2 separate regions of the Homo sapiens genome follow, and region 1 is linked to region 2. Evidence: fine-mapped expression QTL. A gene starts in region 2. The other region holds a variant in brackets. All regions are shown on one strand. Distances are between the middles of the regions.

Evidence for each region. PIP is the estimated chance that this variant, and not a neighbour inherited with it, causes the effect.
Region 1: its variant is fine-mapped to the expression of RORB in blood mononuclear cells (TOPMed, PIP above 0.99).

What each region holds. Positions count from the first base shown.
Region 1 is chr9:74,223,128-74,231,253 of GRCh38, forward strand. The region is part of intron 2 of LOC101927329 (a long non-coding RNA gene); the gene reads right to left. Among named protein-coding and RNA genes, the nearest start is that of RORB, 270 kb to the right of the region's middle. The variant A/G (reference allele first, on the strand shown) is at 4,464.
Region 2 is chr9:74,492,867-74,500,992 of GRCh38, forward strand. RORB (RAR related orphan receptor B) reads left to right here and starts at 4,469. Exons shown (of 10, transcript NM_006914.4): 1 at 4,469-5,117. The coding sequence starts at 5,111. RORB-AS1 (RORB antisense RNA 1) reads right to left here and starts at 5,687. Exons shown (of 5, transcript NR_125791.1): 1 at 5,376-5,687. RefSeq lists silencers at 4,105-4,317, 4,313-4,502, 4,407-4,701 and enhancers at 6,371-7,147, 7,206-7,706.

The DNA of each region.
Region 1 (8,126 bases), 270 kb before region 2:
GATGGAACGTATCTCAAAATAATAAGAGCAATTTTTGACAAACCCACAGCCCATATCATACTGAATGGGCAAAAACTGGAAGCATTCCCTTTGAAAACTGGCACAAAACAAGGATGCCCTCTTTCACGACTCCTATTCAACACAGTATTGGAAGTTCTGGCCAGGGCAATCAGGCAAGAGAAAGAAATAAAGGGTATTCAATTAGGAAAAGAGGAAGTCAAATTGTCTCTGTTTGCAGATGACATGATTGCATATTTAGAAACCTCATTGTCTCAGCTTAAAATCTCCTCAAGCTGATAAGCAACTTCAGCAAAGTCTCAGGATACAAAATCAATGTGCAAAAATCACAAGCATTCCTATAAACCAAGAACAGACAGAAAGCCAAATCATGAGTGAACTCCCATTCACAATTACTACAAAGAGAATAAATTCCTAGAAATCCAACTTACAAGGGATAGGAAGGACCTCTTCAAGGAGAGCTACAAACCACTGCTCAAGAAAATTAGAGAGGACAGAAACAAATGGAAGAATATTCCATGCTCATGGATAGGAAGAATCAATATCATAAAAATGGCCATACTGCCCTAAGTAATTTATAGATTTAATGCTATCTCCATCAAGCTACCACTGACTTTTTTCACAGAATTGGAAAAAAACCCTTTAAATTTCATATGGAACAAAAAAAGAGCCCACATAGCCAAGACAATCCTAAGCAAAAAGAACAAAGCTGGAGGCATAATGCTACCTGACTTCAAACTATACTACAAGACTACAGTAACCAAAACAGCATGGTACTGGTACCAAAACAGAGATATAGACCAATGGAAGAGAACAGAGGCCTCAGAAATAACACCACACATCAACAACCATCTGACCTTTGATAAAGCTGACAAAAAGAAGCAATGGGGAAAGGATCCCCTATTTAATAAATGGTGCTGGGAAAACTGGCTAGCCATACGTAGAAAGCTGAAACTGAATCCCTTTCTTACACCTTATACAAAAATTAACTCAAGATGGATTAAAGACTTAAATATAAGACCTAAAACTATAAAAACCCTAGAAGAAAACCTAGGCAATACCATTCAGGACATAGGCATGGACAAATACTTCATGATTAAAATGCCAAAAGCAACAGTAACAGAAGCCAAAATAGACAAATGCCATCTAATTAAACTAAAGAGCTTCTGCACAGCAAAAGAAACTATCATCAGAGTGAACAGGAAACCTACAGAATGGCAGAAAATTTTTGCAATCATCCATCTGTCAAAGGGCTAATATCCAGAATCTACAAAGAACTTAAACAAATTTACAAGAAAAAAACAAACAACCCCATCAAAAAGTGGGCAAAGGATATGAACAGACACTTCTCAAAAGAAGACATTTATGCAACCAACAGATATAAGAAAAAATGCCTGTCATCATTGGTCATCAGAGAAATGCAAATCAAAACCACAATGAGATACCATCTCACCCCAGTTAGTTAGATTGGTGATAATTAAAAAGTCAAGAAACAACAGATGCTGGAGAGGATGTGGCTATGCGGGCTCTTTTTTTGTTCCATATGAAATTTAAAGGGTTTTTTTCCAATTCTGTGAAAAAAGTCAGTGGTAGCTTGATGGAGATAGCATTAAATCTATAAATTACTTAGGGCAGTATGGCCATTTTTATGATATGGATTCTTCCTATCCATGAGCATGGATAGGAACACTTTTACAGTGTTGGTGGAGTGTAAACTAGTTCAACCATTGTAGAAGACAGTGTGGCAATTCCTCAAGGATCTAGAACCAGAAATACCATTTGACCCAGCAATCCCATTACTGGGTATATACCCAAAGGATTATAAATCATGCTACTATAAAGACACATGCACACGTATGTTTACTGTGGCACCATTCACAATAGCAAAGACTTGGAACCAACCCACATGTCCATTAATAATAGACTGGATAAAGAAAATGTGGTACACGTACACCATGGAATACCGTGCAGCCATGAAAAAGAATGAGCTCATGTCCTTTGCAGGGACATGGATGAAGCTGGAAACCATCATTCTCAGCAAAAGATCACAAGGACAGAAAACCAAACACCGCATGTTCTCACTCATAAGAGGGAACTGAACAATGAGAACACATGGACACAGGGAGGGGAACATCACACACTGGGGTCTGTTGGGGGGTGGGGGGCTAGGGGAGGGGTAGCATTAAGAGAAATACCTAATGAAATGACGAATTGATGGGTGCAGCAAACCAACATGGCACATGTATACCTATGTAACAAACCTGCACATTGTGCACATGTACCCTAGAACTTAAAGTATAATAATAAAAAAGGCAAAAAAAAAAAGAACAAAACCTCCAAGAAGTTTGAAATTATGTTAAACAACCAAACCTAAAAATAATTGGTGTTCCCAAGGAATAAGAGAAAACCAAAAGTTTGGAAAACATTTGAGGAAATAATCAAGGAAAACTTTTCTGGCCTTGCTAGAGATCTAGACATCCAAATACAAGAAGCTGAAAGAACACCAGAAAATTCAGTGCAAAAAGATCATCGCCTAGGCACGTAGTCATCAGGTTATCTAAAGTTAAGATGAAGGAAAGAATCTTAGGAGCTGTGAGGCAAAAGCATGAGGTGACCTATAAAGGAAAACCTATCAAATTAACAGAACATTTCTTAGCAGAAACCCTACAAGCTAGAAGGGATTGGGGTCCTATTTTTAGCCTCCTTAAACAAAACAATTGTCAGCCATGAATTTTACATCCAGGGAAACTAAGCTTCATAAATGAAAGAAACAAATGCTGAGAGAATTCATATGAACAAATGCTTTTTCAGATGAACAAATGCTGAGAGAATTCGCCACTACCAAGCCAGCTTTACAAGAGCTGCTAAAAGGCACTCTAAGTCTTGAAACAAAACCTTGAAATACACCAAAATAGAACCTTCTTGAGTATAAATCTCACAGGACCTATAAAACAATAACACAATGAGAAAAAAAAAGGTATTCAGGCAACAACTAGTATGATGAATTGAATAGTACATCACATCTCAGTACTAACAGTGAATATAAATGACCTAAATGCTCCACTTAAAAGATACAGAAAGTCAGAATGGATAAGAATTCACCAACCATCTGCTGTCTTCAAGAGACTCACCTAGCAGGTAAGGATTCACATAAACTTAAGGTAAAGAGGTGGAAAAATTATTCCCAAAGTTAGAGGAAGTAGCTACACTTATACCAGACAAAACAGATGTTAAAGCAACAATGGTTAAAAAAGACAAAGAGGGACATCAAATAATGATTGAAGTTCTAGTCCAACAGGAAAACATCACAATCCTAAATATATACACACTTAATACTGGAGTTACCAAACTTATAAAACAATCACTACTCGACCTAAAAAATGAGATAGGCCAGGTATGGTGGCTCACACCTGTAATCCCAGCACTTTGGGAGGCTGAGGTGGGTGGATCACGAGGTCAGGAGTTCAAGGCCAGCCTGGCCAATGTGGTGATACCTCATGTTTACTAAAAATACACATGGTGGTGCATGCCTGTAGTCCCAGCTACTCGGGAGGCTGAGGCAAAAGAATCACTAGAACCCAGGAGGCAGAGGTTGCAGTGAGCCAAGATCGTGCCACCACACTCCAGCCTGGGCAACAAAGCAAGACTCTGTCTCAAAAAAAAAAAAAAAGAAATTATAAAGACAGCAAAACAGTAATAGTGGGTGACTTCAGTACTCCACTGACAGCACTAGAGAGGTCATCAAGACAGAAAGCCAACAAAGAAACAATGGACTTAAACTATACCCTAGAACAAATGAAGTTAACAGATATTTACAAAGCATTTTACCCAACAACTGCAGAATACACATTCTATTCATCAGCACGTGGAATATTTTCTAACATAGGCCACATGATAGGCCACAAAACAAGTCTCAATAAATTTAAGAAAATTAAAATTCTATCAAGTACTCTCTCAGACCACAGTGGAATAAAATTAGAATTCAACTCCAAAAGGAACCCTGAAAACCCTGCTAATACATGGAAATTAAATAACCTGCTATTGAATGATCATTGGTTCAACAATGAAATCAAGATGGAAATTTAAAAATTCTTTGAACTGAAAGATAATAGTGACATAACCTATCGAAACCTCTGAGATACAGCAAAAGCGGTGCTAAGAGGGAAGTTTATAGCATTAAATGCCTACAACAAAAAGTCTGAAGGAGCTCAGATAGACAATCTAAGTTCACACATCAAGGAACTAGAGAAACAAGAACAAATCAAACCAAACCCAACAGAAGAAAAAAAATAACAAAGATCAGAGAAGAACTAAATTAAATTGAAACAAACAAAAAAAGCAATACAAAAAATAAATGAAACAAAAAACCGATTCTTTGAAAAGATAAACAAAACTGACAGACCAGTAGCGAGATTAACCAAGAACAGAAAAGAGAAGATCCAAAT[A/G]AGCTCAATTAGAAACAAAAAGGGAGATATTACAACTGATACCACAGAAATACAAAAGATCATTCAAGGCTACTATGAACACCTTTATTCTCAAAAACTGGAAAACCTAGAGGAGATGGATAAATTTTTGGAAATATACAACCCTCCAAGATTAAACCAGGAAGAAGTAGAAACTCTGAACAGTCCCATAACAAGCAGCAAGATTGAAATGGTAATTTTAAAAATTGCCAACAAATAAAAGTCCAGGAACAGATGGATTCATAGTTGAATTCTATCAGACATTCAAAAAAGTATTGGCTCCAATCCTGTTGACACTATTCCACAAGATACAGAAAAAAGGAATCCTCCCTAAATCATTCTGTGAAACTAGTATCACTCTAATTCCAAAACTAGGAAAGGACATAACAAAACAAAACAAAAACTACAGACCAATATTCCTAATGAACATAGATGCAAAAATCTTCAACAAAATACAAGCTAACTGAATCCAACAGCATATCAAAAAGATAATTCACCATGATCAAGTAGGTTTCATACTAGGGTTGCTGGAATGGTTTAACATACCAAGTCAATAAATGTGATACACCACATAAACAGAAATAAAAACAAAAATCACATGATCATCTCAATAGATGAAGAAAAAGCATGTGACAAAATCCAGCATTGTTCTAGTATTAAAGCCCTCGCAAAATTGGCATAGAAGGGATGTACCTTAAGGTAATAAAAGCCATCTATGACAAACCCACAGCCAACATTATACTGAATAGGGAAAAGTTGAACGTTTTCCCCCTGAGAACTGGAACAAGACAAGGATGCCTATTTTCACCACTTCTATTCTACATAGTACCAGAAGTCCTAAGCAGAGCAATCAGACAAGAGAAAGAAATAAGGGGGATCCAAACAAGCAAACAAGTAATCAAACTGTTGTTGTTCACCAATGATATAATTGTACACTTAGAAAACCCTAAAGATGGCCGGGCATGGTGGCTTAAGCCTGTAATCCCAGCACTTTGGGAGGCCAAGGTGGGTGGATTGCCTGAAGTCAGGAGTTTAAGACCAGCCTGACCAACATGGTGAAACCCCATATCTACTAAAAATACAAAAATTAGCCAGGTGTGGTGGCAGACGCCTGTAATCCCAGCTACTCAGGAGGCTGAGGCAGGAGAATCACTTGAACCTGGGAGGCACAGGTTGCAATAAGCTGAGATCAGGCCATTGCACTCCAGCCTGGGTGACAAGAGCAAGACTTCATCTCAAAAAGAAAAGAAAAGAAAACCCTAAAGACTAATCCAAAAAGCTCCTAGAACTGATTTAAAAATTCAGTAAAGTTACAAAATAAATGTAAAAAATCAGTAGCACTGCTATATACACCAACAGCAACCAAGCTGAGACTCGAATCAAGAACTCAAGCCCTTTTACAATAGCTATAAAAAATAAAATAAAATACTTAGGTACACACTTAACCAAGGAAGTGAAAGACCTCTACAAGGAAAACTACAAAACATGCTGAAAGAAATCATAGAAGACACAAACAAATGGAAACACATCCCATGCTCATGGATGGGTAGAATCAATATTGTGAAAATGACCACACTGCCAAAAGTAATCTACAAATTCAATGCAATTTCCATCAAAATACCATCATCATTCTTCACAGAACTAGAAAAACCAATTCAAAAATTATGTGGAATCAGAAAAGAGCCCATATAGCCAAACCAAGATGAGGCAGAAAAAACAAATCTGGAGGCATCACATTACCCAACTTCAAACTATACTACAAGGCTGTAGTTGCCAAAACAGCATGGTATTGGCATAAAAATAGACACAAAGTCCAATGGAACAGAATAGAGAACACAGAAATAAAGTTAAACACTTACAGTCAACTGATCTTCAACAAAGCAAACAAAAACATAAAATGGGGAAGGACACCCTATTCAACAAATGGTGCTGGGATAATTGGCAAGCCACATGTAGAAAAATGAAACCATATCCTCATCTCTCACCTTACACAAAAATCTACTCAAGATGGATCAAAGACTTAAATCTAAGATCTGAAATCATAAAAATTATAGAATATAACATTGGAAAAACCCTTCTAGACATTGTCTTAGGCAAAGACTTCATGACCAAGAACCCAAAAGCAAATCTATTATATAGATATAGTTATATAGATATACATAATGGAATACTACTCAGCCATAAAAAGGAGTGAAATAATGGCATTTGCAGCAATCTGGATGGAACTGGAGATCATTATTCTAAGTGAAGTAACTCAGGAATGGAAACCCAAACATTGTATGTTTTCACTTATAAATAGGAGCTAAGCTATGAGAACACAAAGGAATAGAATGATAAAATGGACTTTGAGGACTTGGGGGAGTGCGAGGTGGCAAGGGATAAAAGACTACACATTGGGTACAGTGTACACTGCTTGGGTGATGGGTGCACCAAAATCTCAGAAATCACACCTAAAGAACTTATCCATGTAACCAAACACCACCTGTTTCCCCAAAAATCTACTGAAATTAAATAAATAAATAATTTGTTAAAAATTTGGTGGAAATTTATTATAATCAGCAGTTGACATGAAAATTTGGTTATTTGTGATGTACTACATAAGAAGTATAATTATGACTGATGTCATATAAAATTTCAAAGAATTTTATACAATTTTTGAGCATTTATTATCAATAACATAGTCATAAATGTTACAAAAAGATCTAGCATCACTTATCACTTGACAATGCTTTTTTTTACAATTTACCAAATAATCCTAATTGTTTACTATCTCTACAAGATGAGAGACACATCCCGTGGGGCTCTCCAGGGTACCAACTGAAAACCTCAAAGTTAACTCTATCTCAAAATGACTTAATTTAAACTTTTAATGCTGGGAAGCCAGTTGAAGATGGCAAAATATTTAAAACAACTGATCTAAACAAAATCACAAATCACTGTGAAATGATAGCCATATTTTCACCAGAGTAACATAAAAAGATTTTAAAAGCAATACAGAAAGTTATATAGATTTAAAAAAATTCTAACCCTTTCAAAGCTCAGTTTTCCTAAGTAATCTAAAAATCTAATTAAGTCAACATGAAACATAGAAAATTATCTTGATAAAATATAAAATCTTTGTTTCTTACACCAGTTACCAAAAGGAAAACACACAAAAACCCACCTACCCACACAAAACACAAAGACAAAACATCGTCTCTCAGAGTATGATTGTGTCCCTTTGTGGGAAGCCTGTTTTGACTTCAGGTTTATATAGAAAGCATAACAAAAATTAGGTGTGTCTTTGGTAAAAAATATAAAAGCAAATATATGTTATTTATTTTTTAAATTGGCTAAATTTACAAGTTATTTAAAGTTGTGTAAAATGTGCAAGAGGTTTTGAAGTCAAACCTGATGGAAAAGTACTTGAATTTGATCAGAAACAAGAAGAGTATGTGTCCAGGATTTTGATTGTACACCATATCATAGAAAAACATAAACAAGAAAGCCAGTATCTTGAGCAGGAAAGTACATGGCTATTAGTAAAAACATGGGAAATTGCCTTGCTAGTTACCTGGCGCAATTCAGACACATCAATAAAAGCCAAGAGTACAGAATCAAATTATACTGGAGAGAAACATTGTTCTAAACTGGAAGCTGCAGTTC
Region 2 (8,126 bases):
GTCTTTGTTCCAAAGCTAGCCTTACCTCTCCCACATACTGGGGTTAATTCATGCTTTGGCCCTTATCACCTTTTCCAATTTATTTCAAAATTACATGCTCTATTTTAATATTTGCTTTCTTTTTTTTATTTTGAAAACTTATTGAACTTGCATCTACACTTTAAAATGAAGCAGAACTTAAAGAACTCAAAGATTATGAAGAAGACTCAGTACCTGGGAATAAAATTGAGAATAGGGCTGGGTGTGGTGGCTCACGTCTGTCATCTCAGCACTTTCGGAGGCTGAGGCAGGCAGATCACTTGAGGTCAGGAGTTTGAGAACAGTGTGGCCAACATGGTGAAACCCCGTCTCTACTAAAATACAAAAATTAGCCAAGCATGGTGGTGGTCACCTGTAATCCCAGCTACTCAGGAGGCTGAGGCAGGAGAATCACTTGAACCCAAGAGGTAGAGGCTGCAGTGAGCTGAGACTGTGCCACTGCACTCCAGCCTCCAGCGAGACTTCCTTTCAAAGAATAAATAAATTAATTAAGAATAGTAATAAATATGAAAATAACTAAATTTTAGCTTCCTTTTATGACTATATAACCAATCTCAACCATTATTTTTTGCTTCCCCAAATTAGGAGAGTTTAAAATGCAGATTCTCCCCACTCTCCTCTTCCCATTCAATAGAAACTGAGAAAGAAGGATCTTATTCAGGTCTTCACTCCATTTGTGATTCATATTCAGTGGCTGAAAGGTTAGAAAGCATTCACTCCACCAATAATGATCAAGCACCCATAAAGTACCAGGAGCTCTTACAAACTCTAGGGAAATCCTGGCTCCTGTTGTCATGAATTTTGCATTCTCAGGTAGGAAATGTGGCTCTGATGCCTGCTGGGGCAGTGGTAGCAACCTTTAGTCCATGTGAATGCAGGCATCCCTTGGTATGCACGGGGGATTGGTTCCAGGACCTCCCACCGATACCAAAACCCACAGATATTCAAGTTTCTGCTATAAAATGGTGTGTAGTATTTGCATGTAACCTATGCACATCTTCCTATATACTTTGCATCATCTCTAGATTACTTATAATGCCAATGTCAACACTATATAAATAATTATTATACTGTATTGTTTAGGGAACAATGACAAGAAAAATATCTGTACATGTTCAGTACAGACACAATTTATTTTTGCTCTGCTCTTGGTTGAATCCACAGTTGTGGAACCCATGGACATAAAGGCCAACTGTACACTTAGAGCTACAGAGGATCTTGGAGGTAATCTAGACAATTTCTACCCTAGTATAGAAATCTGTATACTAGAGCATCTCTAACAGAACCTTTCATTCAACCCTTTTTTGGATGCCTTCAGCAACAGGGAACTCAGTACTTCCCTTCCCACTTGTAAAAGGTTTGAATGTTAAAAGTTCTTACATTTTTCTGGCTTTTCTAATATTTAATAGCAGCTTTATATCTCTTTCCCAATTTTCACAGCCACACAGCTCCCTAAATAGAGTTAAACATAACCAATCTTTCAGTCATTCCTAAAAGTAACATTGTTATCAGTATTGCTAATGTCCATTCAAGAGTCTTAATTATTTAAAATATTCCCTGACCAGTGAATATTCTGACTTATCAGCTCAGAATAACATGAACTATGACTTCCTGTTTAAGCCTTTTAGGATTGAAATAATCCTAAATGCCATGGTCACCCTACCTGGTTGGCTTATATTAAAACTTTGCCTCTTTCAGGATATTTGTTGTCATTCCTATTCTGTGGTACAGCTCAACCTGAGGGGTGCTAATGTGTCAGAAAAACAGGTAAGCAGGCAAGCCTAAGTGGAATCTGATGTCAATTCTTGAGATTGAGGACAGTGCTATGTGACTGATTGTCATTTAAATTAATCAACATGCAACTGTCAACTTAGAAAATCCTTCAGGCCCAGAGTGAAAAGCAGAGTTTCAAGCTTATAGGAAACCAGACATAATCATTCAAATAAAATTACTGATACCGTACTTCATATGAGCTAGGACATTACAGTAATGTATTATTATTATGCCACTTGAAATATGATTATTTGCTGGCAGATAGGTTACAAAACCATCAGATTATATATATGTGCTTTGTGAGTTCTTAGAAAATACTGACTTCTTTCATTCAAATTCTTAATATTTATTTTAAATAAATGGGCTCCATTCAGTGAAATAAATGTGAAAATTATTAGAAATATTCAACAAACCAGTTTTTAAATTTTTAGAAAGATCCAAAATGTCCCAGGCCGCCACATTATAACCAATGATTAGCATTTAAAGAGAAAATACATACTTTTGTATCACCATATATAGAGATTATATACATAGTTTTGAAAAATGAAATAATATAGTCTTCTAATTAATAATTTCTCCAAAAATACTCAGAAGGAATTAAGAAATATGTTCTAAGCAAAATTATGCCTTGCTGAAACCACAAAATAAAGAGAATATAAAAATGTATGGGGGGGTAAATACTTTTTATACACGTGTTGACTACCTTTTTCAAGGATTACAGATATTGCAGCATTAAAAAAAAATTCAGAATTCAATAAATGTTTAGAAAGTTAAAATTACATAAATGTTTAAATTTTTGGATTTTGAAATTCCTGTTCACTCTAAAGAGAAATAGAAATCTAAAATGATAACAACAACAATAATAATTAGACAATGTTTACAAAGCCTTTGGAATTTTCAATATTCTTGTGTCTCTGCTTGAAGCAACAAAATTAAAATGATATAGTCACAATTTGTTTCTTGACTATTTTATATTCAGTAATTTTTAATGAAGCAACTAAATTAGGCATAACTTTGTACAGCTTTAACATAGTTATGATGAATATATTTTACTTGATTAAAAATGATAAAACCAGGGAGCCTTAAATATTATCTTAAAAGATTAACTACTGTGTCAATTACAAATCTAGGAGAAAGATATTTATAAAGGAATAACTATTCTAAACAGTAACTTCCTTTTGTTCATTTCATTTAATTAATGACTCAATCAACTTTCACTCTTAATACTAAAATTTTCCTAAATTACACATTGGTTTGCAAATGGGATGGCATATAGCAGGGCTACGTCAATTTAATACTGGTGAAAATTCAGCAGATAATTCATTTTTCATTTAATCAGGAAGGAAAAAACTACTTGGCAGTGTAGAGCGACCTAATTAACTAAATAACTGCCAATTCTACATTGTACTTTGTGTTACATGACATATCATGAATAAATACCAGTCAAAAATCAAATTATTTGGATACTTAAATGATGATGAGGCCTGCTGTGCCAACAGGTATGCTAATGAGTAGACATCTCCCAGCCTCAAGACTGAGTGAATGAGGCAAATATTTTCACCTCCCAATCTTTTAGGGTGTTCAATTAACTCAAGTATTTAAGAAGTTCCCTACTATTGGGAAGGAAGTAGATGTAATCATCTATATGCTTATTTTGTCAACTGAGTTGGAAAAACTTGCAAAGGAACAGTTTGGATATATGTATTAGATTTTTATCAAAATACAAATAAATGGTCATAGATGACAATTTTCACCTAAGGAATACAAGTAAGTTTATCTATGTTCAGTTACCAATCGCCTCTAACTAAAGTTAACAATGTCTTCCTTCTAAAACCTTTCTAAAGAGCACCCTGCAATCACACCTTCTAGCAACAGCCATTTCTCTTGAATTAGTAAGGTGGCTACACCGCCAATTTGAGCTGTTCTCCTTCAGTCCTGTAGTCCATCGCCAGGGGAGTCTCCAAATGCTAATAAAAATCAATTTCCCAGACAAAAGAACATATACACGTTTTTTTCTTTCTTTCTTTCTTTTTTTTTTTTTTTTAGAAGAGGGTCAGGGAGCATCTGACGGACGTTTTTAAAGGAAGGGGACAGCTACTTCCATGGGACTGCATTTTAGTTGTGCTAAAAGTGATGAAAGTGGGTTTGCATTATTCTACCACCAACACCCAAACCACCTGCCCACGGAAACCCCCGCCGGAGACCGAAGTTTACCCAAATAGCGCTCGGCAAAGCGCTGCCATAAATTCAAAACTAACTCTGCCGGGCCCGCGGGGGTTGCGAGACAGGGACCGAACGTGAAACCCGGGGAGCCCCGCGTCTCTTGCCTCCGAAGGTTTTCCGTGATCAGTGTCCCCTTCTCTGCTGGAGTCGGAAGTGCCTGTCACCTGCGGATCTGCCCGACTCTCCCGGTCGGCCCTTCTTCTCTGCCCAGTTCGGACAGTCTCGAATTCCCCGTCGCAGCCCCGGCCACCTCGGACTCCCTGGTCCCCAGCCCCCGCCCCACCCCCCGCCTCCACCACGTCCCCTCCCCGCGGTCCCAGCCTCTCCAGGCGCTGCTGGGCTCTGATTGGCGGCTGCGCTGACAGCAGGCGGGGCCTGGAAGTCGCGGCCAAGCCCGCCCTCGCGTATAAGCCCCTCTCAGCGCTCTCTCTCCATCTCTCCCCTCTCTTTCTCTCTCGCTGCTCCCTTCCTCCCTGTAACTGAACAGTGAAAATTCACATTGTGGATCCGCTAACAGGCACAGATGTCATGTGAAAACGCACATGCTCTGCCATCCACACCGCCTTTCTTTCTTTTCTTTCTGTTTCCTTTTTTCCCCCTTGTTCCTTCTCCCTCTTCTTTGTAACTAACAAAACCACCACCAACTCCTCCTCCTGCTGCTGCCCTTCCTCCTCCTCCTCAGTCCAAGTGATCACAAAAGAAATCTTCTGAGCCGGAGGCGGTGGCATTTTTTAAAAAGCAAGCACATTGGAGAGAAAGAAAAAGAAAAACAAAACCAAAACAAAACCCAGGCACCAGACAGCCAGAACATTTTTTTTTCACCCTTCCTGAAAACAAACAAACAAACAAACAATCATCAAAACAGTCACCACCAACATCAAAACTGTTAACATAGCGGCGGCGGCGGCAAACGTCACCCTGCAGCCACGGCGTCCGCCTAAAGGGATGGTTTTCTCGGCAGAGCAGCTCTTCGCCGACCACCTTCTTCACTCGTGCTGAGCGGGATTTTTGGGCTCTCCGGGGTTCGGGCTGGGAGCAGCTTCATGACTACGCGGAGCGGGAGAGCGGCCACACCATGCGAGGTAAGCGAGTCTGCGGGCACCGAGGCTCCCCGAGTCCGGCCAACTCCAGCCAGACGGGGAGATGGGGGAGGGGAGGGCACCCAGCAGAAAGGGAAAGAGGTTGCCCAGGCGCAGTTCCCCGAATTCGCTCTCGCAGGTGGGGCTGCAAATGGCCTGGGCGTAGAAAGTTGCGGGAAGGTGTTGATGTCTTTCGGGAGTTCTGGAGGGACGCGGGAGGGCGCTTTTTTGGAGAGGGGAGACAGGCTAGTTGGTTCTTACCAGTCCTTGAGTTGCACTGAATCTTTTTTGCTTGTCGCTCTCGGGTGCGGAAGCGGACGCGGGATGGAGAAAGCCGAAAGAGGGATGCCTCTGGACAGGAGCAGTTTGGAAGCGCCCGGCGCGCAGTGGTCGCCGGCCGGGTTTGGGCGCGCGGGGCGCACCGGCCGGGGGCAGGGTGGACACGCGCGGGCACACACTCGCCAGGTTACGAGGCCCACTAAGCGTCCTGGCCAGCAGGCATGTCCCTTCGCTGGAGTAGCAAGCAGAAGAGCAGTGCTGCGAGGCTGGACGCGGCTGAGGAAACAGTTAGTTCCCCGGCACGCGGCTGAGGAAACAGTTCTGCGGCGCGCGCCTTCGTGCCGGCGCTGCGCCCTGGCCAGGTCCTCGTGCCCGAGCCCGCGCGGCCCAGGGAGTAGTGCGACCCCGGAAAAGTTGTAATGAGAAAGTTCTGGAGGCTTGGAAAGGCCACACTGCTCACAGTCGGAGAGTCATGGGCTCCGGCTCTTTTGTCAGATAAAGGGCCGGTAGTGGAAGGAGGTGCTGGTGCACCCTCGGGCCAGGACCCTCGCAGTCGCAGGCGGTGGCGGCGGCGGCGGCGGGACCCCGGGGCGAGCTGGGGTCTGCAGGGATGCGCGCCAGGGACTGTAGCGTTACGCTTGCTCCGGCTGGACTCTGGGCCTCTCGAAGGGCTGGAGGGTGGGTTTCGGGGAGTCACTTGGTCTCCTCTCCTGCCTTGCCGGAGACCTCAGGTTTCCTTCGCGCTGTGCTCGGCCTTTCTTCACTCTTTTACTGAAGAGCCAGGCGGGTGTCCGCTTGACATGGGGATCTGTGCAAGCTCTGGGCACCCACCCCCACTCCCAGTCCCTCTTCCTGGCCACACAGCGGTTAATCGGGGGCTCTTCTCTATCCTTCGCACGTACCCCTGGGTCTTGACAACAGAAAGTTAGTAACGGCCAGCTCCAGACCTTCTTGCATCCCAGACCCGGAGAGAGGTGGTCTAGGCAGGGAGCACTTGGGAGAGTTGGGATGCAATCACTGGTCTCCTCCTTCCACTGAAAGTGATCCTCTCCCACCCAGTCCCCCTACGCCCCTAGAGGAGCACCCCAGGAGGCAGCGGGTCTCACTCCCACTCCCTCCCGCACCCGGTGAGCCCCGAGCCTGGACTCAAGGGTTTGCTGGCTGGACGCTGGGATGTGTCAGGAAAGGGAAGGAGAAGAAGGAACGGAGAGAGACTGTCCATGGGGGAGGGGGTTGACTGTAGATAAGAAACAAGGACGTCCTGATGGGATGGTCTTGATTGGCCGGCTCGCTGGGAGTGGGGCACCCGTGTGTGTGCGCGCTGGCTCCAGCTGATTGTCCCGGTTGGGGGTTGGTTACACGCTCCACTGTCTAAATTCTTTCAAGAAACTATACTTGGGCAATTGGAGAGTAGAGAACCTTGGCTTAGTAAGAGACGCCCGGTCTTTTGTTTTTCTTTTTCTAGCCCATCTCACCATCCCATCCATTCTTTCGGTTTCCCCCGTCCCAGTCCAGAGCTGCCAGTTCGTCCCTCCCCTTCTTCCCTTCTAACTTTCCCCCTGTGGCTGGGTTCATACTTTCTGAACGTCGTAAACTATGCGCCACCTCAGCTCGGACCCAGCACTAGGACCTAGGGCATAAAATCCGCTCACTCCTTACATCGTAGAAGGAGTGCGGCGCGGGGTGGGGATGGGTTGTAGCTTGATCTAGCATCTCCTGAAGGAGCAGTTTGCAGATGACTGTCCTGGTTCGCCACGGCGGTCGCTTTGAGGACTCCAGAAGCTGGAAGGATTGAAAGCCAGGCGCTGGTCCTCATGCTCACCTTGAGAAAACCAGTTTAAGCCCACAGACCTATCAAAGAGGGCGCCAGCCTCGCCAGGCGCCCTAGGACCCCTTACAACTTCTAACTTGAGGCAGCTCTCAGGCGGCCTTAGGGGAATGCGCTGGAGAAAATGTAAGCTTAAAAGATGACCAGGTCACTCTATCGCCATTCCTGGTTGCCCTTTCCTGACCCCTAGTGTCTTTCCTTACTACCTCTTCATATTTTCCCCGGACAGTGCCCTACCACAGTATGAGAGGCTGTTCCGTAAGAATGGGATTGAGAAAAGATCCAGGCTACTCTGACGTCTTGTGGAGTTGGGAGTTGAACTTGAGAGTGAACTTGAGAAGTGAAAGCGGGAAAAGAATCAGCTTTCGCTCGTGCAGGGCTACTAAGCACCCTATGTTGGGAGAGGGGCCATTTTTGACCTGGGCTTTACGGTGGGCCCACTGCATTTCCCTCATCCACACGCGCGCGCTTTCCATTCCCAGGTGGTCCTAGTTAGCGCCTGGGCTCCACAGTTTGCAGCTGACAACTGTCCTGAATCAGGGCGCTTTGAGCGACGGAAAGGTGATCTGGGATTCAGTGGTCTCCCTCGGGGCCAATCCGGCAAACCTATTCCCACCCCCTACTCCTCCCCCGCCTAGGGCATTTAAGAGACTATCCCCAGGGAAGCTACGGGGAAAGAAAGGGGTTAAGAGTCCCTGATCTTTGACGTCCTTGTCCTGCCCCACGGCTGAACTGAGTCCCGGACACAGCGCAGTTGCTTACTCTAGCCTGGGGCGGAGGAGGTTGTATTTGGTGGCGCACAAAGCCTTTCATCCTTTGTCTGTGAGAGGGTACCACAGAAGTTCTAGAGAGGCTTCTCCGTAGATTTCATTACTGAAAGGAATAACTTCTGAAGGCGAAAGGGA